Linked DNA regions of Homo sapiens. The main gene of each other region encodes a partner of the protein of the gene in region 2 in a complex. Each region holds a gene or a part of one and is shown on either strand. Other genes may lie near its edges.

Region 1 (7,026 bases), on a different chromosome or scaffold from region 2:
TTTATTACTCATTCTGCCTGCTAAGTATAGGTGTTTTCCAAGATTCTTCTCTTTCTCCTTTACCCTTTGCCGGGTTCAACCATTTTTATAACTTAAACAAAAATCATCTCTTCCCAAATGACTTGTAAATATTTACCATAATTTATCATAAATTAAGTTGCCTACCAGACATTTGTCTTCAGATATCAAATTCAGCATATCCAAAATAGTACAAAATATCTCCTCACCAAAATAAGATTATCCTGCTAACTTACTGCTTCTAGTATCACTTCCATATGTCTGCTTCCTCAAATATGACCCTTATTTGTTGTTTTCCTCTGGTCTGTCATTATAAGATCCTTTCCATTTTTCTTCAGTAATTTCTCTTGGGCCTTAGGTCCTTTACCAAGGATCTAATTAGAAAAAAAATTACATTGGAGGAACTCCTTTACTTAAAAAAACTGTTTTAAGGTGAAAGGCAGCATGGAGTGTTAAAAGAATGTTTAGCTAGGAGATGGAAGACTTGTTTCTAGATCTGGCTCTGCGATTGATTTGGGGCAAGTCCTTTTACTCACTGGGGCCTTACTTCCTTTATTTTAAAGTGAAGAGGTTGAATTAGTGGATTTTCTATTAAGTCTTCTGTATTATATGTATGTCCTTTCTTTCTCCCCCTGCCCACACCACTTCAATAGTGTCTGCAGGCTCTGGAGTTCTTGCATTCGAACCAGGTCATTCACAGAGACATCAAGAGTGACAATATTCTGTTGGGAATGGATGGCTCTGTCAAGCTAAGTAAGTAGGAGCCTTAGGAATGATAATACTTCTCTGCCTGTGGGGCCCTGTCTCCTGTGAGATGGTCATCATATAATAGTAACTACGACACTCACCAAAGGGTCTTTATGATTTCATGGGATATGAGGGCTGTTTTATATTTTCTGTATTAATCATAGGATATCATTTCATTATTTTTTCATTCATTTATACATTTAACAACAACCACAAAAAACTTTGCTGAATGGTTACTCTGTGCTAGGTCCTGTGATGGGCACTGAGAGTAAATTTTCCCTACCTTCTCAATCTAGTATGGAAAACGTGTAATAGATAATTAGAAAAAAGAGTTTTGTATAATTTCTTTCATTCAGTTATTCAGCAAACTTTTATTGAATGTCCAGTACATGCTGGTCCTTCTAGGGATATGAGGACAAGTAAGAGGACATAATCCATACTCTCAAAGGCTTCCTAATTTAAATAAATTTATAATTGCAATATAATGTAAAAACCATGGCAGGTAGAGCATTTTGTTCAAAGGTGTAAAGACCAGTAGACCAGACAAACAGGCTGTGTCATGGGTGGATGGGCAGTTTATGGAAGGACTGCTAGCAGCCCTGGGTCTGGGGCATAAAAACAGGGCCATGCCTAGTCATAGGTGATTGGGGTTTAAATCAAGGACTCGTGCCCAAGGAATAAGACAAGGACCTAGTCGCCAGATTTGGGATTATGGGAATGGTTTTTCAAGAACAAAGCAGAATTGGGATGAGCAATCAAGACCAAAATGGGCAGCTTGGACTTTAACACTAAGTCCCCTGGTTTGAGGAGAAGTAGGAGGCCAGAGATGGTGTTTCTTATATTCCTTCTATTTCTCTTCAGGGTTCAATAGGAAATAGGCTAGGAGCTAGACATGAAGGTGGTAGTCAAGTGACTTTGGAGAGACAAAGGATAGCAGAGCTGGAAGCCAGGCGGATCTTGTCACCTATGTGTAGGTACACAGTCAACACTTACTGAAGTGAGTGTATATCCTAAATGTATGTTCTTTCTCTTATTTTTCTTTTCTAGCTGACTTTGGATTCTGTGCACAGATAACCCCAGAGCAGAGCAAACGGAGCACCATGGTAGGAACCCCATACTGGATGGCACCAGAGGTTGTGACACGAAAGGCCTATGGGCCCAAGGTTGACATCTGGTCCCTGGGCATCATGGCCATCGAAATGATTGAAGGGGAGCCTCCATACCTCAATGAAAACCCTCTGAGAGTGAGTGTTACCAGTTCTATTTCAAGTTATTTGGGCTGTTGTCTCTAGTCCCAGGAAATAAGAATCCAGGGTGTTCTCTGTGGTTTTCAACCTGGAGATCCCTTTTCTGGATACAACTAGTCACTGTTGAACTTAAAGTATAAATGGCCAAAGAAAAGGAATATTAGAAGTCACTCATTCATTTATTCAACAATTATTTGAGTCCCTGTCAAGTGCAAGAAACTATTCTAATGAAAATAAAATAAATTAATATGTAGTAACAGATGGTAAATGCTGTGAGAAAAAGCAAAGTAAGGGAGTTAACAGAGTAATGGAGGAACAGGTGTGCTATTTTAGAGTAGAGAGGGAAGTTCTCTCTTATAAGTTATTTTATTCTGCAGAGTTGGGAAGTCATTAGAGGGTTTTGAGCTGAGGAGTAATGTGATCTGATTTATGTTTTAAACAGATCATTTTGGCCGCTTTTATGGAAAATAGACTGCGAGAGACTGTTGTAATAGTTCAGAGTGGTGGTGTCTTGGTAGGAGTGGAAGTGAGAAGTGGTCAGATTCAGGAAATTAAAGGACTAGCTGACAAGATGAACTGAATATTAGAGAAAGAGGAATCAGCAATGACTACAAGATTTCTGGTCTGAATTGCTGAAAAAATTCAGTTGCCATCTGTTGAAATGGTGAAGAGCATACTTAAGTTGGGTAATAAAGAGTTGGTTTTGAATGTGCTGATTTGAAGTGTTAATTGGACATTTAAGTGGAGCTGGAGTAGAGTTTGGCTTAAGAGTCTGGAGTTCAAGGGTGAGAAGTCAGGACTATAAACATAAATTTATTAGTAGATAATATATAGTTGGTATATATAGTAGGTAGATGAGATCACTCACCTAGGGAATGAGTACAGTTAAAGAAAAGAGATTTGAGTACTGAGCTCTAGGTTATTCCACTGTTTACAGGTTGGAAGAACTAGCAAAGTAGACCAAGGAGTGGCCTTTCTAGTGTGAGAGAACAGAGAAGTGTCTTGGAGGTGAAGTGTCCTGGAGATGAAGAGAACAGTGTGCTTCCCGAAGGAGGAGGAGGGTAGATTATGTGTCAAATGTGATTGATAGGTTAAGATGAGACTGAGAAATGAACATTGGATTTGCCAATGTAGAGGTTCTTAATGACCTTAATAATCAGTTATCAGTAGAGAGATGGGGATGAAAGTCTAATTAAATTCATGAAAGTGGAAGAAGAGGACATTGAGATGGCATGTATAAACAGGTTTTTTTTTCTCTTAAAGGAATTTTGCTGGGAAGGGTAACAAAAATGGAGCACTATCTTAAAATGGAGTCAAGGGAGGGTTTTTCTAAAAGATGATGTCTGTGTGCTAATGGGAATGATTTAGTGGAGAGGAGGAAAATGGTCATGTACAAGAAGGAAGTGACAACCATAGAAGTGATATCCTTAAGTCGATGAGAGGGGTTCGATCAAGTACTGAAGTAAAGGACATTAGATTAGCATGGACAATTTATCCCTTGTAACAGAGCATCTCAACACAGGTGCAAATAGGTTGGTAATCTTGGTGTGGGCAAATGTGAAATTTATTCTGATTGCTTTTATTTTCTCATTTATTCCCACCTCCCATCCAGTGCAGGAATTCCCTGTGCACTGTTGCTGGTAGGTGGTCATCTACATGCTCATGTCATCCTTGAATATCTCTGATTATTGGAAATTGCTTCAGTGCACCAAACTGAAACTACCTTCTGTAGTTTCTATCCTTTGATCCCAGCTTTGCCTCTGACTCCACATACAACATACTCTTCCCTCCCTTAGAACGGCCTTGCAGATATTTGAAGATGATAATTGCTGGGATATGTTGGAAATAAGACAGAATGATCCTAGACATAGGCATATTTTTTTATTTTTTTATTTTTATTTTATTTTTTTTTTTGAGATGGAGTCTCACTCTGTCACCTAGGCTGGAGTGCAATGGTGTGATCTCAGCTCACCGCAACCTCCACCTCCCAGGTTCAAGCGATTCTCCTGCCTCAGCCTCCTGAGTAGCTGGGATTACAGGCACCTGCCACCATGCCCAGCTAAGTTTTGTATTTTTAGTAGAGACCACATTTCGCCATATTGGTCAGGCTGTTCTCGATGGTCTCGAACTCCTGACCTCAGGTGATCCACCCACCTCAGCCTCCCAAAGTGCTGGGATTACAGGAGTGAGCCACCACGCCCGGCCCTAGACATATCTTTTTATGTTTCCGGACCCTATCTGTGAAGTGAAGATGATAAGTCTTGCCCTATTACCCAGAGTTAATTGTGGCCATTAAATTAGACAGTGCTTATGTAAGTACTCTTTGAATTAAGTGCTGAGTGCTTGTAAAGATTTAGTCTTACTGTTTTTCTTTACCTTTCCCAGGAGACGCTTCATTTAGGGGACTAGGGTGGCAACAGTTTTCACTTACATTTAATATTCCTTTCCTGCTAGAAGAGATCAGTTCTTGGATGACTGAGGTGAAGGCACCAGGAATAATTTCTGCCAGCAGCTGGGCAGATGTTTAACTCAACAGGCTAAATGGATAATAAACCCTTCAGATGTGTAAGCAAGAATAATAATAAAGCCAGGCACAGTGACTCACGCCTGTAATCCCAGCACTTTGGGAGGTTGAGGCAGGAGGATCACTTGAGTCTAGGAGTTTGAGACCAGCCAGGCCAACATGGTAAAACCCCGTCTCTACTGAAAATACGAAAAGCAGTCGGGTGTAGTGGCTGGTGCCTGTAATCCCAGCTACTTGGGAGGCTGAGTCAGGAGAATTGCTTGAACCTGGGAGGTGGAGGTTGCAGTGAGCCAAGATCGTGCCACTGCACTCCAGCCTGGGCGACAGAGCAAGACTCCATCTCAAAAAAAAAAAAAAAAAAAAAGAAGAAGAAGAATAAACCCTTAGGTCTGTAACATATTTCATAAGTTTACAAAGTACTTTCAAATACACTATCTTATTTTATTTTTACAGACATGTGAGATGGGCATTATCATCATCCCTACTTTACAGACAGGGAAGTTGTACATAGTCCCATGGCCTTTAAATGTTCAACCTGATCCTTAGGTCATACTCTTTCCAGTATATATACACAGCTGCTACTTTGCATCCTAGAGCATAAAGCAGCTGACCATATTTCTAGAACTTGTATATGGGGAACAAGAGAGAGCCTCATTTGGAGCTCAAGGTGATTCACCATTTTTATTGCCAGGCCTTGTACCTCATTGCCACCAATGGGACCCCAGAACTTCAGAACCCAGAGAAGCTGTCAGCTATCTTCCGGGACTTTCTGAACCGCTGTCTCGAGATGGATGTGGAGAAGAGAGGTTCAGCTAAAGAGCTGCTACAGGTAACTGTCCTTATGCAGGGAAGCACCTAATTCAGGGAATCACTAAACCAGGCCTTTTTTACTTCATGTTTGTAAGGTACTGGATATTATAGAACTAGGCTTCTCTTCTACCACTTCCTACACTCACTCTGTTCCTACTGCCCTTTTATCCCTGGGCCTTTGCTCATTTATTTTCTTAGCCTTTCTCAGCCTGTTAAAACTCTACACGTTCTCCTAGGCTCAGTTTACAATCTATTTTCTGAGCACCTATTGAGCTTTGCTTGTAGCTTTTTTGCTTGCTTCCTTCCTTCCTTTCCTTTCTTCTTCCTTTCCCTTTCCTTCCCTTCCTTTCCCTTCCCTTCCCTTCCCTTCCCTTCCCTTCCTTTCCCTTCCCTTCCCTTTCCCCCCCCTCTTCCCTCTCCCCCTTCCTCTCACGCCCCACAGGGTCTCACTCTGTCACCCAGGCAGGAGTGTGCAATGGCGTGATTTTGTCTCACTGCAGTCTTCCTCTCCTGGGTTCACTCAAGTGATCTTCCCACCTCAGCCTCCCAGGTAGCTCAGACTACAGGTGCACGCCACCATACCTGGCTAGTTTTTTAAAAACTTTTTTGTAGAGACGGGGTTTTGCTATGTTGGCCGTGCATGGTCTCAAATTCCTGGGTTCAAGCGATCTGCGCACTTCGCTTTCCCAAAGTGCTGGGACTACAGGCATGGGCCACCATGACCAGCCTGCTTGTATCTTTCATTAGCACTTCCTTTGTTCTGTTTGAATTAGTCTGGCAGAGTTTGTTTGAGTCTTGTTGAGAAACGGGTCTCTGACACCCAAATCTTACACAACTTATATTTTGCTGGGATTAGCTCAAAGGATACATTTTTAGCAAAGGAACATAAGTTTATTTTATTTTATTTATGTTTTATTTTTCTTTCTTTTTTTTTAATTCTTTTTTTTTTACATTTTATTATTATTATACTTTTAAGTTTTAGGGTACATGTGCACAACGTGCAGGTTTGTTACATATGTATACATGTACCATGTTGGTGTGCTGTACCCATTAACTCGTCATTTAGCATTAGGTATATCTCTTAATGCTATCCCTCCACCCTCCCCTGACCCCACAACAGTCCCGGGTGTGTGATGTTCCCCTTCCTGTGTCCATGTGTTCTCATTGTTCATTTCCTACCTATGAGTGAGAACATGCAGTGTTTGGTTTTTTGTCCTTGCAATAGTTTGCTGAGAATGATGGTTTCCAGTTTCATCCATGTCCCTACAAAGGACATGAACTCATCATTTTTTATGGCTGCATAGTATTCCATGGTGTATATGTGCCACATTTTCTTAATCCAGTCTATCGTTGTTGGACATTTAGGTTGGTTCCAAGTCTTTGCTGTTGTGAATAGTGCCACTATAAACATACGTGTGCATGTGTCTTTACAGCAGCATGATTTATAATCCTTTGGGTATATACCCAGTAATGGGATGGCTGGGTCAAATGGTATTTCTAGTTCTAGATCCCTGAGGAATTGCCACACTGACTTCCACAATGGTTGAACTAGTTTACACTCCCACCAACAGTGTAAAAGTGTTCGTATTTCTCCACATCCTCTCCAGCACGTGTTGTTTCCTGACTTTTTAATGATCGCCATTCTAACTGGTGTGAGATGGTATCTCATTGTGGTTTTGA
Region 2 (6,939 bases):
GTCAGAGTAGACTTTTTTAAGGAGGGGGTGCTTCAATTTGCAATTGCAAAAATGTATATATACACACACATATATATACATAAACACACATATATACGTATATATACCCATATATACACATATATATACATACATATACATATATATTATATATATACATACATATACGTATTATATATATATACGGGTATATATGTATATATATGATGGAATACTACTCCGCCATACAAAGGAATGAATTAATGGCATTCCCAGAAACCTGGATGGGAATTGGAGAATATTATTCTAAGTGAAGTAACTCAGGAAAGGAAAACCAAACATCATATATTCTCACTCATAAGTGGGAGCTAAGCTATGAGGATGCAAAGGCAGAAAAATGACACAATGGACTTTGGGGACTCAGGGAACGGGTGGAAAGGGGGTGAAGGATAAAAGACTACAAATTGGGTTTAGTGTATCCCAAGTTACTGCTCGGGATATGGGTGCACCAAAATCTCACAAATCACCACTGAAGAACTTACTCATGTAACCAAATGCCAACTGTTCCCCAAAAACCTATGGAAATAAAAAATTTAAAAAATAAAAAACTGAGGGGATGCTTGAGCTGGGTCCTGAAGGGTAAGCAGGAATGCACCAGGTGGGTGCAGAGGGAAGACCTTGGTGGCAGCGGTCCAGGTCCCACCAACAGGGCGAAGACTGGTGGTGGGAAAGAGTGTCTGGAGGATGACCAAGGGGGCTGAAATGGGTTGGGGTGCAAGCGGGAGGTGGTCGCTTTTTGACACAGCTTGGTCTCTGAGAGTTCGCCTTGGGAGGCTTTTGAGGGGAGGGTAAAGGTGCTGGTGGTGGGGTTAGGTCAGATCTGATTTAGCCAGTCCTAGTACCCACACCCCTACTTACTAAACTTGCATGTTTCCAGGCCCCATCCAGACCCACTGAATTGAGCGTCTTGAGGGAAACTCAGAAATATGCCTGTTCACTGAGTGAAGGTGATTTGGGGGCTGCAGCCCTGTCCCCGCTAAAGCAGCACATGGGAGAGGTGGGAGCTGGGCCTATTCAGGAGCCCCTCTGGAGGTGGGAGAATAAGACCAGACCTTTAGCCCTGTAGGTACTGAGGCTCTCATGTTGGCAGGGCTGGAAAGTCCGATCTGTTGGTCTGTCACAGGAAGCAGTGGTAGCAATGGTGGTGGTGGGCACTGGAAGCAGGGCTTCTCCTGTTCAGAGAGAGAAAGCCACAGGGGCGCCGGCGGGAGGTGGGAGCAGATGGGGGGCCAGTTTCCCAGCAGGATTGATTCCAGGTCCCCTGCTGGGCTGTACAGGGAGCGGCCTTTAACTGCCCTGTTCCTGGGCCAGGAAGAAGGAAAAGGAGCCTGGGCTCTTTCTCTCCTAGCTCCTGCCCTGCCCCCTTCCCACTCAGTACCCGGAGAGTACCTGCCCCAGGCCCGTGGAGATGCTCGGCTCAGCTGGTTGGCGATGCCCATTCCCATCCCAAGGGTAGAAATGCACAAGCTTCCTCCATTTCACTAGCTGACCCTCCTTCCTCCACAAGGCAGATGGATTGGGGGTCCATACGTTCTCCCTATAGGTAGGGAAACTAAGGCACAGAGAAGGACTTGAAAAGCTGAAGTGGGGAGACCATGCCAGACCTTTGGAGCCCAGCTGTGCTTACAGATGAGGTCCTGAGTTCCAAGTTACTGCCCCCTCTCCCCTCCACACACACTCCTCAGACTTCCTGTTGGGGGCCCAGGCTAAGACCACTTGCCCACACCACTGATAACAGTGAGTTGATTGTGAGCCTCCCGTCCCCTCCAGGGAGGGCTGGAACCTGGCTGATCAGAGGGTTCCTGCTTTGGGAAACAAAATGGGCCAGATGAACTCAGGCCCTGGGAGCAGGACCGTTGCCCCCGTCCTGAGTAGGACTTCCTGGGAGTCCCTCACCCCCAGAACCCGTGGACCTGGCTACGGAGGTTAGTCATGCCTGGAAGTGCCAAGATGTGGACAGGTGGTGCTCAGAACCCCACCTACGTGAGGAGGCACTGAACTGGGTTCTGGCAGTTTGGCCAGAGGAGGATGCATGCTAACAAGGCCCCCAGCTTGCCTGGGGACTGAGTGACTGTGTGTGCGCTCTGTCCAGGGGCTTCTTTTTAGAGACGTTCCTGCACCATGTCTGCTGTTGAAAGGAGATAGGGCAATGCCTCCAAGCTTGTCTGACCTGCAGCCTACCGGCTGCATGTGGCCCAGGATGGCTTTGAATGCTGCCCAACACAAATTCATAAACTTTCTTAAAGCATGATGAGGTTTTTTTGTGTGTGTGGTTTTTTTGTTTGTTTGTTTGTTTTAGCTCATCAGCTATGGTTAGTGTGAGTATATTTTATGTGTGGCCTGACAATTCTTCTTCTTCCAGTGTGGCCCAGGGAAGCCAAAAGATTGGGCACCCCTGGCCTAACCCAAAGGAGGCTAAGGGTGTCCTCTTGGGCACCCTGGTTTTCCATCTTCCTGTGGGATTGGCCAGTATTCAGGGAAGAGGGGACCAGGGCAGCTGATAGCTCTGGACTCCTCAGACTGAGTTTGCTGGAGTAACACCCCTCCTGCCCCTCCCCCCTGGTCAGGGAAGGCGCCTGGCTTCCAGCTGTGAGACAGGCTCCGCAGGACTAGGGACCCTCCCCGCTGGCTGAGAGCGCTAGGGAGGGGGCTTCCCCTGTGAGGTGCAAAACCCGGCCTGGATTTCTGCCCAGACGGCCCCGCCCACTCCAGGGCCCCACCTTCCCCACTGTTCTGGAGGAAGATCCCCTAGCCGGCCTCAGGCACTTGCGGTGACTCACACCCCCCACCCCTAAGTCTGAATGTTGAGAGCCCCAGGCTAAGACCACTTGCCTCTGCCACTTTCCATGTGACTGAGGCAAGACCTCCTTGCCAAGGCCTCAGTTTCCCCCTCTGTACTTCAAAGGAGGCAGCTCAGGCAGGTGTCTTAATAATTTAAACGACGAATATTGCTAAAGAGATAAGGGGCGGGGAGAGAGAGAGATCACTGTGGGCCATGGTTAGGGAAGGGTGGAGGAGCTGGGTCCTGAAAGGGTGGACTTTGGTCGGGTGGAGAAAATAGCCAAGAAGGCAGTCCCTGCTGGCAGCACAGCAAAGAGAAGTGAGAATTAGGGGGAGCAGAGGTGAGGCTGGAGGGGACTTTGGTTGGGGCAAGATTATTTGGGGTCCAAATAACAAGGATGTTTAGACGTATTGCCATTGTGCTCTGGGGAGCCACGGAAAGCTCTTGAGCTGAGGAGTGACTTGGAGAAAGTTTTTCAGCCAATGCAATAGAGGGAGTTGGTACCTTTCCTTCTGCCACCCTGAGTTTCTGGTGCCTACGGTAGGGTAGGGATTGTTCTGCCCTGCCTTCAGTGCTTTGAGTGCTTGAAACAGACACCGTAATTTTAATTACATAAAAATGATACGTGTATCAGACGGGACAACCTTTAAAACGTAAAGAAGAGGCAAGTATCCTGCATCACAGGGGAGTCTTTCAACCTGGCTGGGCCAGGGCCTGCGGAGCAGTGAGGGTCGTTTCTCAGCCCAGCGAGCCTGGGGCAGGAACGGACCCTAATTGAAGGTGACCGTCCCCAAGCATGCGTCCTACCCCGGGCTCCGGAGAGCGCACAAGCAGGTGTGCACCGTCTACCCGCGCTGGCGGGATTGGGTGCCTGGTGCGCCCTCAGGTCGACGGTCGAACCCTCGGGGGCGGGGGTGGGAGCCAGAACCCTCGGGACGACCCGTCTGGGGTCCCGGGGAAACTCCGGGCCGCCTCGCCCCGCCGATTCCAGGCCGGGATTTCTCCCGCACTGACTTTCCGGGCCGGTGCCAGCCCGGCCTCCGGGTCCCCAGCCCCCGCCGCGGGGCCGGCTGCTCGGGGAGCGGGAGGGGGCAGGAGGCGGAGGAGGAGTTTGAGCGACTTTGTGGGGCAGCCAGGGCCTCGGCGGCCGCTCGGGCGAGCGCGGGAGAACGCGTGGGCGCCCGCCGGGCTGTCCGGAGCGGCCGATGGGGCCCGTGTGAGCGCGCCCAGGCCCGGCCCGGTGCCCGGCGGGCGGCAGCATGTCCGCGGGCGGCAGCGCCAGGAAGAGCACCGGGAGGTCCTCCTACTACTACCGGCTGCTGAGGCGGCCCCGGCTGCAGCGACAGAGGAGCCGCTCCCGCAGCCGGACCCGGCCTGCCAGGGGTAGGCGCCACCCCGACCCCTGACCCCTAGACCCTCCTAAGGCCACTAAGCCACCTGATGCCCTGGGATGCTAGGGACCGGGATCCTCCTTCCAGCCATTTGCCGGGGGTTTCCTCATCCGCCCCTTCCTGAGTCTGCCGGACCCCCCATTCCCCCAGCTTCTGCTTAGTCCTCCTCTCGCCGGGGGAAGCCGAGGCTCTAGGGTCTCCTCTTAAGCCAGGGACAGGGAGAGGGGAGCCTGGAATCTTTCTCCGCATCTCAGATCAGACCTCCTACCCCACTGTGCCTCAGTTTACTCAGCAGCCGGGCAATAAAGTAACCCAGGGTGGATCTGAGCTTTCCCACACCTTGCCTTCCCAGCCCAGGCCGCGGACTTCTTTCTTCCCTTTCCAGGAACTTAACGGGCTCCCCACCTCTTGGGTGCTAGGACAAGTGGGTGGACCTCAGGGAAGGAACCGTGACCCCTCGAGCGGGTGGGCGCCAGCTCCTTTGCAAAGTTTCTCTCCATCAAGCTCAGGAGGCAGGACGAGACGGAGGGGGAGGTGCGAGCAGCATTTTCTTTTTCCAGTAACAGGATCCTCGGCTGGAAATGCGTGTGATCCCGGGGGCTGCGTTTGGGCGGGTGGTGGCCGGGACTTCCTTCCCTGGCTGAGTAGGAGGGAGGGAAGCCCCTGGGAGGAGGAGGCCTTCAAAGGGGCTCTGGGGAGGCTGGAGTCCTAGGCAGAGGTTCAGGCCCACCGAGGGTGCCCGTGGGGTGGAAGGGAGGAGAAAGACGGCGCCTTAGCAGGGACCTGGGCCGAGTTGACACCATCAGGTTATCTTGAAAGTGGGAAGCCGGGCCCTGTGCCAACAAATGCCATGCAGGGAATCTGGTAGACCAAGAGGGGCCACATTCCCACCCTGCAGGCTGCCGTTGTGTGACCTGGGCTGAGCTGCCTCTGAACTTCAGTTTTCTTGTCGGTGTGAGGGTAAATGAAGCAGGCAGGTAGTGTTCGGTTGCTTCCACCAGAATGGGGAAGACTTTTCCCACAGTCAGGTCTGAGTAGCACTGTGCAGTCCAGGGCTTCCTCAGGAAGTAGTGAGTTCCCTGTGCACAGAAGGGTTCAAGCTGAGGCTAAGTGTGTGCACAGGTGTGTGCTGGTAGTTCAGTCCTCAAGGGTCTCTCAAAGCCTGCAATCCCCCCACTCCTGCCTTTCCTGAAGTCTTAGTAAGTACAGAATTAACAGTACTAAGTTACTTAGTAAGTACAGAATTAACAGTACTAAGCCTTTAGTACTCCTTGGAGGGAGTACTAAGCCTTTAGTACTCCTTGGAGGGAGTACTAAGCCTTTAGTACTCCTTGGAGGGAGTACTAAGCCTTTAGTACTCCTTGGAGGGAGTACTAAAGACCTGGGGAAGGCTTTATCTCAGTGGTTCAGGTTTTGGTTCTTCTATCTCTGTCCTTCTATTTAATTCTGTACTTGCTAAGACCTGGAGAAAGGCTTAGTACTGTTAATTCTGTACTTACTCCCTTCCCCTGGACTTGGTCTGGGAGACCGGGAATCTGGGCTCAAGCTTTGTGACTTTGGGCAAGTCATTTCCCCTTTCTGAGCTTAGTTTTCCTGGTTGTAAAATGGACCTGCCGTATGTGGAGGATTCAGTGAAGAAACTGAGAAATGGGAGCTTTGAAAATGCCCAGTACTGTTCAGACCACCCTGGGGCCTCTCCTTCTGCACCCACCTCACGTCACCTCACCCACCCGCCCCTCCTTTGCCTCAGAAATGCCCTGTGTGACCTTTTCCTCTTCTCACCTCAGCCCAGTTCCATCCCTGACTGTAATGGGAGTCTCGCTCCTGTTCAGCTGACCTCCTGCTCAGCTGACCAGGCAGGGGATAATCAATGTGTCAGGGGCTGTCACCTGAGCCCCAGCTCCCAGACCCCACATACACAGGATCACTGCTTGTGTCCCAGCTTGAAGGAGCTCACGGCCTGCAGAGCGGGGAGGAGACTGTCTCTGAACAGAAGTTATATCTGGGGAGATCAGGGAGAGCTTCACAGAGGAGGTGACATTTGGATGGGATCTCACAAAATGGATAGGGTTTCCCTTCGCAGAGGGAGTAATTGAGTCAGATCTGGGTTCAAGTCTCAGCTGTGCACACAACTATTCTACAGCCAGTTACCTCTCCAAGCCTCAGTGACCTTGTGTGGTCAATGGGGCTAGCAGTGACAGGGTCATGTGAGGGCCAGAAGCCAGTGCCTGGGACTAAGGCTGCAGCTGAGGGTGAGCTACTGTCTTCTCTCTGGACAGAATGAACAGACTGCGCAGTCAGGGAGAAGGAAAACGGCTTGGGTATTGAGAATAGAGTTCCTCCTGGGTTTGGGGAGGGGAGTGGATTGGGAAGGGGGCTGGGTGAGTGGGTGGGGAAGAGCAGGCAACAGTAGTTTGGATTTGATAAAGGGCCTTGAACTTTGGGAGGCCAAGGCAGGAGGAATCCTTGAGCCCAGGAGTTCAAGACCAGCCTGGGCAACATAGCAAGACCCTGTCTCAATATTGTTTTTGTTTGTTTGTTTGTTTGTTTTTTTAAAAAAAGAAGGCCTGGAGTGATGAGGAGTTAGTTACAGCTGCAGCCAGGGTGTAGGGTGGAGGCTGGAGGCACCCTGTCCTCCTCCTCCTTGGTGGGAGGCAGCTAGGGCAGCCATTGCCCTCCCTCCACTAAAGCCTCAGACGCCTGACTCTACCCCAGAGCCACAACCAC
Region 3 (7,026 bases), on a different chromosome or scaffold from region 2:
GACACATTTCCCCTCAGATCCTACCACACCTTCAACCTCATAGAATTTACCTTAGGAGAAATAAAGGCCTTAAGTGGTTGTTTTGGTTTTACATATGGACATATATTTGGCTGACATTTTCCATTTGTATTGTTTAAATTTATACAGTAAAGTCTGGCTACATAATTAACTCATTGACAATTGCATGTCTTTTAGATACTCTCAGCCCCTGCATGAAGAAATAGCATTGCATAAACACCTGAAGCACAAAAATATTGTCCAGTATCTGGGCTCTTTCAGTGAGAATGGTTTCATTAAAATCTTCATGGAGCAGGTCCCTGGAGGTAAGAGATATTTCTTTCTTTAAAAAGTGTGAATGTTTAGAGCTTCGGAGGGGAGTAAAATTGAATGGGATTTACTAGCGTACAGGTCTTAATCTGTCTAAACTGAAAGAAAAATTGGACATGTGACATTACCTCCAGTTTGTTAGGAGATGTCAACCATAAATGATGAGATTTAGAAAATATCCTAATGTATAGAGTTTATTCCAGTGCAAAGCTTGAGGATAGCCACCCAGGAAACACAGACTCCAAAAGAATGGGCCAGTGTTCCAAAGTGAGGAAGTTCATGTTTCACTTATATAAGCTGAAGACTAACAGGGTGGCAACATCTTCTACCCAAAGTCATTACATTTAAGTGGTTACAGCTTGCTGTATTCCAAGGCACATTATTTTAATGTTCCATAAGGAGGGGTAATGGTCTCGGGGGATCTTTTCTTTGGCACCATTCAGTCTTCTCCAATCATTTACAGGACAAAAATGCGGAAGAGATTTAGCCTATAATCGCAGAATCAGAAGTTACAACTGAATGCTATATGACTCAGGCCACAAAGTCACATTCCTTAAATAATAAGGCTCAAATAATTTAAAGTTCTAGAAGCTTTACATGTGAATTATGTAATTTCACAGAGACAATACATAAATATGGGAACCATTTCAGTATCTATCATCATGACTTGAATTAAAGTTGGCAATTGACATTGGCCTTTTACTTAGACATATTTGATTACAAGCATCTTTAGAGTAGGGATATTTGCAAATTCATGTTTGAGCCCGATATCCAGTATAGCTCCTGGGCCACTGTGAAGAACCAATGACTGTTAGCTTAAATTACTGTTACATTATTAATACACTTTAAAGAGCTCATTTGAATGAGGATTTATTTACTATTTATCCCTACTTTACAGGAAGTCTTTCTGCTCTCCTTCGTTCCAAATGGGGTCCATTAAAAGACAATGAGCAAACAATTGGCTTTTATACAAAGCAAATACTGGAAGGATTAAAATATCTCCATGACAATCAGATAGTTCACCGGGACATAAAGGTGAGGTACACCAGCATTCATTTTCATGAGTTCTTTCTTTGCTGGGTTATTATTTTACTTGCAAAAGTCATATTGTGTTATGAGTATTAATTTAGAATGGTGAATAAGTAAATCTTAGAAACAGCAGAAATATAAAATATCGTTCAACCCTGAATCAGTTATTTATGTTCATGTCTTAACGCTTCTGCTCAAGGAACACACTGCTTAACTGCGTTCAGCCAACAAGATTGTGCTCCCACCACACAATGTTTCCTAGGAGCTCTGTGGTGTGGGATGCAGCTGTCAAAAGTTAAACAGGAGATGGCCCCTGGTCCTGAGGAGCTTATAGGCTGGTTAATCTTTGTATCCTTGCCCATAGTAGCTACTCAGTAAATACTTATTGAATCAATGGATGAATGGTTAGAAGAAAAAAAATTCCTCTTTTCTCACAAGTATCACATATTCATTGATTTAACTATAATTATAAGGTATAGATTCTCTAAAATAAGCTAAAATAATAACTTTACATTCTCTTTTTAAAAAGAAAATTCAGAACTAATACATTTTTTACAAAGTCTGGACTGTTGAAAATAAGTTAATATTAGTACCCTAAAATCAACCAAAAAGCCCATTTATCTATCATGTCCCTACATATTCCAGGAAAAGAAGTAAAGAAACATAGAAAAGAAAGTAAGGTAACTGGAAAGTTATGAAAATCGTAATTTAATTATACATACATCATTATATATCTGTAAATAGCAACAAGCTCTAACCAATTAGGAATCATATTTGATCTTGTGATCTGAGTAGCAGATTATGAAGAACTTATAACCATCCAATGAGTTCATGTTGCCCACTGACCAGATAGAGCTGATTTCTCAAGATGTAAGAATTGCAATTGAGAAAGAGTTTAATACACATAGAGATGGCCAAACAAAATATTGGATCTTATAATTATTCAAATCAGCTTCTCCAAAAATTTAGAGGCTAGGGTTTTTCAAAGATAGTTTGGTGAGCAGGGGGCTAGGGTCTGGGTGGTTGGGGATGTAATTATAGGGGTGTGGAAAATGGTTCTTGTGTGTTGAGTCCACTTCTGGGTAGGGGCCACAGGACTGGTTGAGTCCAGAGTCACAGGTCTGGGTGATGCCATCTGATAGTCAGAAATGGAGAAGCCTGTAAAGACATCTCAAAAGGCCAGTCTTCAGTTCTACAATAGTGATGTCAATTATAGGAACAATTGGGGAAGTTGCAAATCTTGTGACCCCCAGAATAATGGGCTGATAATCATTTGACTGTGCCTACATCTTAGCGGACTTTAGGCCCCTCTCATCCTCCTAACCTGGTGGCCTTTCATTAGTTTTACAAAGATAGTTTAGTTTTGGGGAAGGGCTATTATCAACTAAACTATAAATTAAATTTCTCCAAGTGAGCTTGGTCTACACCCTGGAATGACCAAGGGCAGTTTGGAAATTTAAAGCAAGATGGTGGTGGTTAGATCAGATCTCTTTTACTGTCATAATTTTCTCACTGTTGTAATTTTCGCAAAGGCGGTTGGTTTCAAACTGATAATATGTAAACAAAAAATAGTGTCAAGAATGCACTATTGAGATAAACTATTAATGAAGAATACAGAATTAATGTCGTTGGTAGCTGTAAGGACACCTTTTTTTTTTTTAAATTGGACTTACCAAGTCAACAACAGACAGTATCTGAAGAAAGATAACAATTGTGATTAAAGTCCTCTGTTCTCTAGGGTGACAATGTGTTGATTAATACCTACAGTGGTGTTCTCAAGATCTCTGACTTCGGAACATCAAAGAGGCTTGCTGGCATAAACCCCTGTACTGAAACTTTTACTGGTATGTTTTTGCAATGATGATACAGATCTTATGTAATTAAAGAAATAATTGCTGAGTTTGAGCACAATGTGAGAGAGAAATTCAGTTGGTGTTCTCACACACAGTAATGTTGGTATCTTTTTTCTTTCTTTTCTTTTCTTTTCTTTCTTTTTTTTTTTTTTTTTTTTTTTTTTTGAGACAGGGTCTTGCCCTGTCACCTAGGCTGGAATGCAGTGGTGTGATCACCTATCACTGCAGCCTCAAACTCCCAGGCTCAAGCAATCCTCCCACCTCAGCCTCCTGAGTAGCTGGGACTACAGGCATGCGCCACCACGCCCAGCTAATTTTTTTGTATTTTTGATGGAGACAAGGTTTCACCATGTTGCCCAGGCTGGTCTCAAACTCCTGGGCTCAAGCGATATACCTGTGGCCTCCAAAAGTGTTGGGATTACAGGCGTGAGCCACTGCGCCTGGCCAATGTTGGTATCTTTTGATGCTCACTGAAAAATGTGTTACAGAATTTGATTTGGCCCTTTTCTCTTCCTGTATTTATATGACTTGCTTAGTTAGTCTCCTGCTTAATGCCACTGAAGATTTTTTTTTTTTTTTAATTCTCAACTTGTTACTTATTTTTCTTTTCATGTAATTACTTCTTTCCTGGTTGGCCTACAATAACTCTAGCAAGATTTTTTTTTTTTTTTTTTTATTAAACATTTCCTTGGCCCAACCTCTCTGTGATGCTTACTCATACCCTAATCACTTCCCATTTGGACGATGAATTCCCTCTTTTACTGTTTACTCTCTGTGGTTGACTCCCCTACTCCACAATATAAATAACCCTAGGATTTCAATTCAGAAGAGGAAGTGACTCACCGACTCAGAAGAAGGGAGGGAGAGAGCTTTCCTGAGAAAGTAGGCAACGCAACCACTGAGCTGCCTCTGGTGCAAAGTACTGGGAGGGTGGAGACCAAGTGATTTCCAAAAAGGTAACAGTAGCCAAGAGGAAGCTCAGACTCAAGAGATTCATGACTGCCCAACAGTTATAGGGAGGGTGTGTGAGACTTCAAACCTGATCTCCATTTAGTTCTTATCACTCCATCATGCTAATTCTCATGAAGTGTTAAGTTCTTCTTATAGAGAGAAATTTAGCAGGAAAAAAAAAAGGGTAAGGGGAAGGGAAGAGAAAAAGATCATGAATAATCTTTGGTCTAATATGAAGCAACATGGCCCCATCTCAATTCTGTGAGGTAGGTGGGAGTACCTCCATTTTGTAGATGAGGAAATTACCTGGGAGAGAAGTGACATTGCAGTCAGAAGTCACAGCAGTGTGTACCGGATAGAACTCAGACTGGTTTTTTGTTTTTGTTTTTGTTTTGAGACTGGGTCTTGCTATGTTGCCCAGGCTGGTCTTGAACTCCTGGGTTTAAGCAGTCCACCCACCCCACTCTCCTAAGTATCTAGGATGTCATGCCTGGCAAAACTGTTTTTTTGTTTTTGTTTTTTCTTTTGAGATGGGTTCTCGCTCTGTAACCCAGGCTGAAGTACAGTGGTGTAATCTCTGCTCACTGTGACCTCCCCTACCCCGGGCTCAAGTGATTCTCCTACCTCAGCCTCCCTAGTAGCTGGGACCATAGGCACGCACCTCCATGCCTGGCTAATTTTTTGTATTTTTGGTAGAGACAGGGTTTCACCATGTTGCCCAGGCTGGTCTCAAACTCCTGACCTCAAGTGATCCACCTGCCTTGGACTCCCAAAGTGCTGGGATTACATGTGCGAACCCCCACGCCTAGCCAGAACTCAGATTTTGTATCTACTGTTTGCTCTTTGCTTTTACCTTCTGGCTCTAGTCCATCTTTCTCTCTACCTTCCTGCAGGAGGAGAGAGAGACATTCTGTGTAAGTTTTTTCCCTAGAGCATTCAGTCAGCAATACCCCTGGCCCAGCTCCCACCTCAGGGCAATGGATATTTTAGGGTACAGAATTAAACACATTTTGAATATATTTTTTTGAAAAAACTAAATTCTGACCTATTAATAACTTCAAATGTCTTTACATTTCTTTCCTCTTACTCTTAACTTGGCAAGCAGCAGTTTCAGTGCTGTCAAGACTCAGTAATTTCTGAGAGGAAAATCCCTCGTTTCACACACTTTGTGGGACAGGATGTTAACACAGTATCTTCTGCTACTAATCTGGGGAACATCTTTTTTGTAAAATCTCCAAAGGAATTGTAGGAAAGCAGTCCTCACAGAGCCCTTTTCTTGGACCTCTTCCACTGGTGTCACGTAAGAGTGACGTGTGTCACTAACATGTATAGATCTGTCCCCAGCACCGGTCCCGAGGGCCCTGCACATCATAGGCTTCAAACGTGAACTTGGTGGTCACTAAGTCCCAGGTGGGTTAGTCCCAGGTGCTCAGTCAATAAATTGGTCTGCATCACCTTTTGGTGATTTTGATGAGGGAAAAGGCAGCAGTGATCACCATTTATGGAGTGCTTACTGTGTTACCTTGCTCTGCACTAAGTGCTTTACATATGTTGTTTTATTGAAATTCATACATCAGCCTTAATCATTAGGTATCATTATCCCAGTTTGTGGTGAGAAAATGAAGGTTCAAAGAGGTTGAATAACTTGCCCAAGGTCACAAAGCTAGTTGGTAATAGAGCTGAGACTCAAGCAAGACTTAACAGGCCAAAGGGAATTAATTATCTTCTCCCAAACCTGTCCCCGGCACACTCTTCTGTCCCAGTTGGCAGCCACTCCCGACATTGTTATCCAGGGCACTTCTCTTTTCTCACACTCCAACCCAGTCCGTCCACGAAGCCTTCAAAACATGTCCAACATTGGGCCGGTTCTCACCACCTCTGCTGCTGCCACTCTCATCGCTCACCTGCATTTTCGGTGGCTTCCCCAACTGTGCTCCTGCTTCACTTTTGCCCCCTACTGTCTACTCTCAGCACTGCAGCCAGAGTGATCCCTCTGAAACATAAACCAAGTCCTATTGCTCAGAGCCCTCAGTGGCTTGCTTTTTTTTTTTGTTCAGAGTAAACAAATGTCAGAACCCTCATAGTGGGGGACAAGGCTCTGACCTGATTCGGAGTCTGTTCCCTTTCAGACCCCATTTCCTACTCTTCTTCTGTTATTTACTCAGAGCCAGAAACGTGGACCTTCCTGCATTTCCTCCATGACAGCAGGCAGGGTCCCATCACAGGGCCTTTGCACAGGCTTTTCCTCCTGCCGCTACCCCAGCTGTCTGCATGGGTAACTTTCTTACCTTCTTCCAGTCTCAACGCAGATGTCCACCTCTGCAGTGAGACCAGCCATGAACACCCTATTTACCATGGCAGCCTTCCTGCTGATCCTCTTCACTCGGGTCTATATTTTTTTGGTCATAACATGTCACTTTCTAACATGCTGTATAATTTACTTACTGTGCTGATAATTTATCATCTGGCTTCTACTGCAAAAACATAAGCCCAGGTATTTCTATATGTTTTCTCCTCTGCTGTATTCTAAGTGCCTAGAACAGTGCCTGGCCCATAGTAGGTCCTCAGTGTGGATCTGTTAAATGAATGAGTGAATGAATGAAATGTGACATTAGAGTTTAATTAACCACTAAGCTGTACCACCTCCCTGGGTAGTTGCAGCAGCAAAGAAATTCTACAATAGATATTTCAAAGCAATTTTTTAAAAAAACTTTAGAATGCAGATATGTGAGGTATGAGTTTTAGAGCAAATACTCTCATTGATTTTACTTAAGCCAGTGTTCAGGTTGGCTCTCATCTTCATTATCCAGCTTCGTAAATTGCTTTGTTTAAAATATTATGTGTCATGTATTTGTGGAGTAAAAAG
Region 4 (7,074 bases), on a different chromosome or scaffold from region 2:
AGAGGGATCGACCTCTCAATAACATTATTTTACAGAGCCAGTCTATGTATTGTCTTTTCCCCAAATATATATCTTTCTTTTTCTTTCTAATATGGGGGTAGGAAGAGAGACGCAGGCATCCATTTTAGACTCAATCATTATTATTTTGAAATTGCTTTGCTAGGCTGGTAATATAAATTCTAGTTCAGTTTATTCTGAATCACAGAAAGGCTCAGAGAAAAGAAAGAACCTGGTTAAGATTTCACAGCTAGGGAAAGATGAAAACTTGAAGGGTACTAGCAGGACGGTTCCAAAGACAAATGTACAAGAGAATTGAACCGTTTCACATTGTTCACCACTAGACTGTTAAAAACAAATATACATATTTTAAAAACTTACCTTCGATATACGAATAAGGTCCCTTCTATATCAGTCTTCTCCTATGAAAGACAATGACTCAATTAGTTTTTTTTCCCCATAATCAGACCCCAAATAGTCCCCATGGAGAAGTAATGCTTCACGTTTAAGATCAACTTGTTTCATTTCATCTATTATAAAATTAACCACTTTTGAACAGGTAAAGTCTCCCTCTCATTCCACAAATTGTGGTTACCATTTCTAATGTATCCTTTCAGTGCATAAGCATATGCAATATTTAATCCAGCAACATATCTGTATCTGCAGTATTTTTCTTTTTTAATTAGTAAAGGAGAAAATCATAGAATAAACCTTCACTTTTTATAGCTAAAATATTTTAGCCAGATTTCTTAACTTTAAAGCTAAGGTCCTGTATACTGCAATTTCTTCTCTTTTAAGTTTATCCAAGTTAATTTTAAAAAAGGAAAGGAATGAAACTTTCTTATAGGATACTTTGTTTCATCACTAGGGAGTTTTCGTACATTTTGACAACTAGCAAATTTTGTGGTTAAGAATTACTACCAAACAAAATCAGCTTGTTATTTTTAGAACTTGAAGAATCTTGAATACTGAAAGTATACCCTGCCTCAGTGTAATTATTGGAGGCCTTTACCATAGTTCATTTTCTGTGACAAGAGTGTATTTAGGTTTTAAACACAGTTCAGTGTTTTTTAAAAAATAAATAAGCTTATTAGTCTGCAATTTACAGCCTACAATGGACCTAAATATTTTACTGTAATCAACGCATTATTAACATTTTAAATGTTAGTCATATATTGAATGTGTTGGGATTAAAAAATTTAGAAAATTGATCATCTCGATTTCTTCCAGAAGTACTACCCTAGCTTAAATATCATTATTTTCCTTCCTAAGGATTCAGAGGCTTTTTCTTACCTTTAAAATGTTAGGTTATTACTATAAGAAACTGGTAATCAACTGTCTTACAGTAAAAGAAAATTTGCCCACCAAAAAACATCATGCAAAGTTACAACTCACTGTAAAATAATAAAGAGGGAAAAGATTTTTGTCATGCTCTATGTGCCAGGATCCAAATAAACAGTAGCAGCTTATTTTTCAATTCAGGTTATTATAGCTTGTATTTCATATTTAAAACAGAACTCCACAATGTAAAATTTTAAAATATTGAAAGCCTTTGTGAAAAACTAGGAAAACTCTAGCCCCAAGTCTTCACCATTTGTCGGCAATCCATATTTCAAAATTTATATATAGGCCAAGAAAAGAAAAAAGATTCATAAAATTTCAAACTAAGGCAATGTCTAAAATAGCTACATTTAAAAAACAATCTACAATTTTATTCCTTGTGGCTTCCCATATCTCCTTCTCTTCCAGGAGGCAAAGATAAACAACGTGATTATAAAAACTCTTCATCTGAATTAACTGTTCATAAATGCCAAATGATTTTCGATAAATTACTGATAAATATAATCTATGCAACTGTATTATAGGGTAAACGACATACTACGGTCATCTTCCAGAGTTCTGTCAGTTTAAGGATTTCGTATCTTATTGAAATGTGAACTCCAGTCATTGGTGAATTCAATCCAACAAGCATTTACGTATTACTTTCTAAGTGTAAAGCCTGTAGCTGAATGAGTTAATTAGGAAGGGTCAATTACAAGAAAGTGGGAAATTATGCTTTTTAAACAACTAACAAAGCTTCAAGCAGGGGCTAACAAGAATCAGTGAACACACTGAATGTGACTTTTCGGACCCTCCCCAGTGCACGAAAGCCAGAAAGTACTGAGTCCGAGGGGAGCATTCAGAGATGACATCACCAGCATCATAGATGGAACAAAACACATTTACAGGGTCTCTCTTGTTTGTACAAAGGTCTTCGGGGATCCAGTGAACACGGAAGCCCTTTTCCTAAGTGCCTTGGAATCTTTTCCGAAACTCTGTGTAGTTCGATTAAAGCCGGACCCACCCACCCCCTCCTTCCAAGAATCGAAACTAATTGGATTTTAAACTTTAAACCCAAATGACCTCTGCGACAGGGGCTCTCATTTACGTTTGCCAGGGGGAGAGGAGGAGTGTTTATTTTATAGATAATGTACATATAATTTATCTAATAATCCGCAAAGCCTCAAACACAAGCTTTCAGGCACCCTTTTGACCCCACCGGTCTTATAACTCCCAATGTATCTGCAAAGAAGGCAGGTCGCCCACGTCCCCAGACCCGACGCCAAGGGACTGATCCTGCTCCAATCCTCCCCTCCACTGGCTTTTCCTTGGGATGTCTCGAGCCACTTCTCTCACTCCTATCCCCCAATCCCAAGCGGACCCGACACCCCTCAGGCTCTGGCTAGGCTCTTGGCCAGACCCTGGCCTCGTCTCCACCGCCCTGGCCTCTTAGTGTGCCCCCCCACCCCACAGTAACCCGCGCGGCCCCTTTAAGAGACGGCAGCGGCCGGGTGGCCGTCCTCAGGGCCAGGCGGCACTCACCCACTGGTTGGCCTTGGGGCAGAAGGTGTACAGAGCGACCTGGCCCGTGAGGTCTGCGATGCTGGTGATATAGGGGTCGTGTTGCTTCAGGGCCGCTAGGCTCATCTCCTGCCCAGCTCGACTCAGCGCCTCCATCTTGAATCCCAGAGCCTAGCCCCTCTGGTGGGGGCGGAGTCGCGGACAGGAAAGTGCCATCGAGGCAAAATTCCCCCATCTGCGTCAGTCCCCTCAACTTCCGCCTCTACGCGGGCCTCGCGGCAGGGCGGTACGTCAGCCATTCTGGTCCGCCGCGCGCACGCTCCGGGCGCCGGGTTCCGGCGTTGTCAGGGTCCGCGGCCCTACGATGTGGGCGGTGTCCAAGGCTGCGTAGTGGAGCTTGCAGGCTGGAGCTCCGGCGCTTCCTTTCCCTGAGCTAAAACGACTGGGTCCTGGGATCTGGCCTCTAGCTCGCCTGCCGAGCTCTTTCCAGGCAAAGGTTGGAGACCGCCGAAGTGCCGGCCTCGCGGTGCGCTGTCTGGCAGGGCCCGGGGCCACAGAAGGAAAACATGTCTGTGGAATGTGGAAATGCGGGACTCTACCGGGCCCGTTTAGAGAGCACAGAAAAACATGGGGGAAAGGGAGAGGCGAGAAGCCCAGAAAATTACCCTAGGTCTCAGATATGGATGTGTCGACCTAAAAGGAAGAAGACTCTGGGGCAAAATAAATGCAAGCAGAGAGTTTATTTGGGCCAAGCTTGAGGATTGCACCCCAGGAGCATAGATTCAAGTTGCCTTGAATATATACACTGATTAGCAGAAGGTACAAGTGGATTTTTTTTCTTTTTTTTTGAGACGGAGTTTCACTCTTGTCGCCCAGGCTGAAGTGCAGTGGCGCGATCTCGACTCACTGCAACCTCCGCCTCCAAGGTTCAAGCGATTCTCCTGTCTCAGCGTCCCCAGTAGCTGGGATTACATGGGCGCGCCACCATGCCCTGATAATTTTTGTGTTTATAGTAGAGACGGGGTTTCGCCATGTTGGCCAGGCTAGTCTCGAACTCCTGACCTCAGGCGATCCACCCGCCTCTGCCTCCCAAAGTGCTGAGATTACAGGCTTGAGCCACCGCGCCCGGCCCTTTTCTTTTTTTCTTTTTGAAACGGAGTCTCGCTCTTTTGCCCAGGCAGGAGTGCCGTGGCACAATCTCAAGCTCACTGCAACCTCTGCCTCCAGGGTTCAAGCGATTCTCCTGCCTCAGCCTCCCAATTAGGTGGGATTACAGGCGCCCGCCACCACACCTGGCTAATTTTTTCTTTTTCTTTTTCTTTTTTTTGAAATGGAGTTTCGCTCTGTCGCCCAGACTGGAGTGCCGTGGCGCGATCTCAGCTCACTGCAACTTCTGCCTCCTGGGTTCAAGCGATTCTCCTGCGTCAGCCTCCAGAGTAGCCGGGATTACGGGCGCCCGCCACCACGCCCAGCTAATTTTTGTATTTTTTTTAGTAGTGACGAGGTTTCACCACATTGGCCAGGCTGGTTTTGAACTCCTGACCTCAGGTGATCTGCCCTCCTTGGCCTCCCAAAGTGCTGGGATTACAGGCGTGAGCCACTGCGTCTGACCCACATAAATATTTTTGTCCAGCCCTGGGAAGAGTCCATGAAGGGTTTAATTTGTCTTGCTTCATTTAAAGCATTAAGCAGATCACTCATTTCATTGGTAAGTGTCTGTTGAGCATTTTAAAGCGTTTGAAAGAGTTAGGCACTAGCTAACAAGTAAAACAAATCATGGAGACTATAGGGAGTTCTATCCCCGCCAGACTTCTTAAAAAGCAACATTTCTTTCGTTAAAAAGGTCATGGAGGCTGGGCGTGGTGGCTCATGCCTGTAATCCCAGCACTTTGGGAGGCTAAGGTGGGAAGACCGCCTGAGGTCAGGAGTTTGAGACCAGCCTGGACAATATGGTGAAACCCCGTCTCTACTAAAAATACAAAAATTAGCCGGGCGTGGTGGCGCACGCCTATAGTCCCAGCTGCTTGGGAGGCTGAGACAGGAGAATCACTTGAACCCGGGAGGCGGAGGTTGCAGTGAGCCAAGGTGGTGCCATTGCACTCCAGCCTGGGCGACAGAGCAAGACTCAAAAAAAAAAAAAAAAAAAGGGTATGGTAGCTAGATGTGTGGGCTCACGCCTGTAATCCTAACACTCTGGAAGGCCGAGGAAGGTGGACCACTTGAGGTCAGGAGTTGGAGACCAGCCTGGCCAACATGGTGAAACCCCATCTATACTAAAAATACAAAAATTAGCTGGGCGTGGTGGCACATGCCTGTAATCTCAGCTACTCAAGAGGCTGAGGCATGAGAATAGCTTGAACCCAGGAGACGGAGGTTGCAGTGACACAAGATTGCACCACTACACTCCAGAGCTTGGGCAACAGAGGGAGAAATTCCATCCAAAAAAAAAAAGGGGGGGGCATGGTGGCATGTAACTGTAGTCCCAGCTATTTGGTAGGCTGAGGTGGGGATCACTTGAGGTCAGGAGTTCAAGACCAGCCTGAGCAACATAGCAAGACTACGTCTGGAAAGAAAAAAAAATTGACATCCCCAACAGAATTGAAAATTTTTGTAAGATAAAACCATATTTTCAAGAAAATAACACTAAATATTTGTATTGCCTATGATTTTATATCCCAGGACCACTGTTTTTTGTCATTGTGTTGATGAGAAGAGTCAAACTCTGTAAAATAGTTGAAGAAATTTATTCTGATCCAACTATGAGTGACCATAGCCCTTGACATAGCTCTCAGGAGATCCTGAGAACATGTGCCCAAGGTGATTGGGGCACAGCTTGGTTTTATACATTTTTGGGAGAGATGAGACATCAAATACATTTCAGGTGTATATTGGTTCTGTCCAGAAAGGTGAAACAACTTGAATTGTGTGCCAGCACACCTGGCTAATTAAAACTTTTTTTTTTTTTTTTTTTTTTTTTTTTTAGAAATGGGGTCTGGCTCTATTGCCCAGGCTGGTCTCAAACTCCTGGCCTCAACCAATCCTCTGGCCTGGGTCTCCCAAAGTGTCCCTGATAAAATGAGTTTTTTCCCCACTGTGTATCAGTCACAAACAAAGAATATCCCATTGAAAAAGGCAATCAGGTTTTATTCATTTGCCAGGGAATGGAGAAGGTGAGCTCTTCCTCTGAAAGCATCTTTTCTTGAAGAATAAAAGGCAAGGGGTTTATTGCCTTTATTCCTATGGGGCAGGAAAGGAATGTTAGTATGTGCAGGGTGGGACTCCAGACACGCAGGCCCAATTCATAAACATGCATCTTCATATATCATATGTACACAAAATGGCAGAGATTTTCTTTTAGGGAAGGGAAATTAGCATTATAATGATATGTTCATGATCTAAAGGCACCCAGGGTTTGCCAGTTCCCATTTGCGCTGGTTTTATGGTGTCTTATCTTCCTCTGGCATCTGGTCAGGGGTCAAGAAGCTCTGGCGCCATCTGGTTTCTTTAAGCAGCAGTGTCTATAGATAAAGGGACCAAAGAAAAACAATAAGAAAAAGGAACTTTCCCAGTTATTTTGTCAGGGCTGTCCTGGTTAACAAAAATGCTGAGATTACAGGCTTGAGCCACCGTGCCCAGCCCCCCTGTTTGTTAATGTAAAGAGAAATTTAGATTCTTTGCAGAATCATGTAAACATGTACAAATGTGGACAAAGACACAGATATCATTCATTCACTCTTAAGTCAGTATTTATTGAACTCCTAATTGTGAGCTGGTGGCCCCTTGGGAGCATCTCACTCTGTTTAAGACATTCCTGGCTCTGAGGGAAAAAAGAAAGTAGGACAGTGCAAGGAAACAGGGATGATGCTAGAGACATTTCTCTTTGAAATCCAGAGGACAGAGCCGCTAACTTAACTGGCTGGGAAAGTCTAGGAGGGCTTCCTGAAGGAGATGATGTTCAAATTGGTGTTCTAGGGATGACTGGGAGTTCAGGGGAAAAAAGTAAGGCCTCTGGTTCATTTCACAGCTCAGTGGTGAGGTAGAGAAGATGTCGTCACCCTCATTTGACAGATGATTTAATTGAGACCTGTGGGGAGAATTCACTGGCTCAAAATTCCACACTAGTCACAGAGGATCCAGTATTAGAATCTAGGGACTCCTATCTTCTACCCTGGGATCCTTTCCTACACGCCCCAGATGCCTTTCTTCCTTCCAGTGGCTGGAGGTAAGAGCCCTATT

The links.
Region 1: DAB2IP (region 2) and PAK1 share a complex: the UniProt entries of both Homo sapiens proteins name them as parts of the cytoplasmic complex.
Region 3: DAB2IP (region 2) and MAP3K5 share a complex: the UniProt entries of both Homo sapiens proteins name them as parts of the cytoplasmic complex.
Region 4: DAB2IP (region 2) and DCP1A share a complex: the UniProt entries of both Homo sapiens proteins name them as parts of the cytoplasmic complex.

The regions. Positions count from the first base shown.
Region 1 is NC_000011.10:77,331,069-77,338,094, reverse strand, and holds part of PAK1 (serine/threonine-protein kinase PAK 1), read left to right. Parts: intron 1-671; coding exon 672-771; intron 772-1,812; coding exon 1,813-2,009; intron 2,010-5,227; coding exon 5,228-5,365; intron 5,366-7,026. UniProt on the Homo sapiens protein: Protein kinase involved in intracellular signaling pathways downstream of integrins and receptor-type kinases that plays an important role in cytoskeleton dynamics, in cell adhesion, migration, proliferation, apoptosis, mitosis, and in vesicle-mediated transport processes.
Region 2 is NC_000009.12:121,647,696-121,654,634, forward strand, and holds the start of DAB2IP (disabled homolog 2-interacting protein), read left to right. Parts: upstream 1-3,938; 5' UTR 3,939-4,080; coding exon 4,081-4,204; intron 4,205-6,939. UniProt on the Homo sapiens protein: Functions as a scaffold protein implicated in the regulation of a large spectrum of both general and specialized signaling pathways.
Region 3 is NC_000006.12:136,607,456-136,614,481, reverse strand, and holds part of MAP3K5 (mitogen-activated protein kinase kinase kinase 5), read left to right. Parts: intron 1-195; coding exon 196-323; intron 324-1,225; coding exon 1,226-1,362; intron 1,363-3,094; coding exon 3,095-3,200; intron 3,201-7,026. UniProt on the Homo sapiens protein: Serine/threonine kinase which acts as an essential component of the MAP kinase signal transduction pathway. Plays an important role in the cascades of cellular responses evoked by changes in the environment.
Region 4 is NC_000003.12:53,344,524-53,351,597, forward strand, and holds the start of DCP1A (mRNA-decapping enzyme 1A), read right to left. Parts: upstream 3,021-7,074; 5' UTR 2,995-3,020; coding exon 2,860-2,994; intron 420-2,859; coding exon 379-419; intron 1-378. UniProt on the Homo sapiens protein: Necessary for the degradation of mRNAs, both in normal mRNA turnover and in nonsense-mediated mRNA decay. Removes the 7-methyl guanine cap structure from mRNA molecules, yielding a 5'-phosphorylated mRNA fragment and 7m-GDP.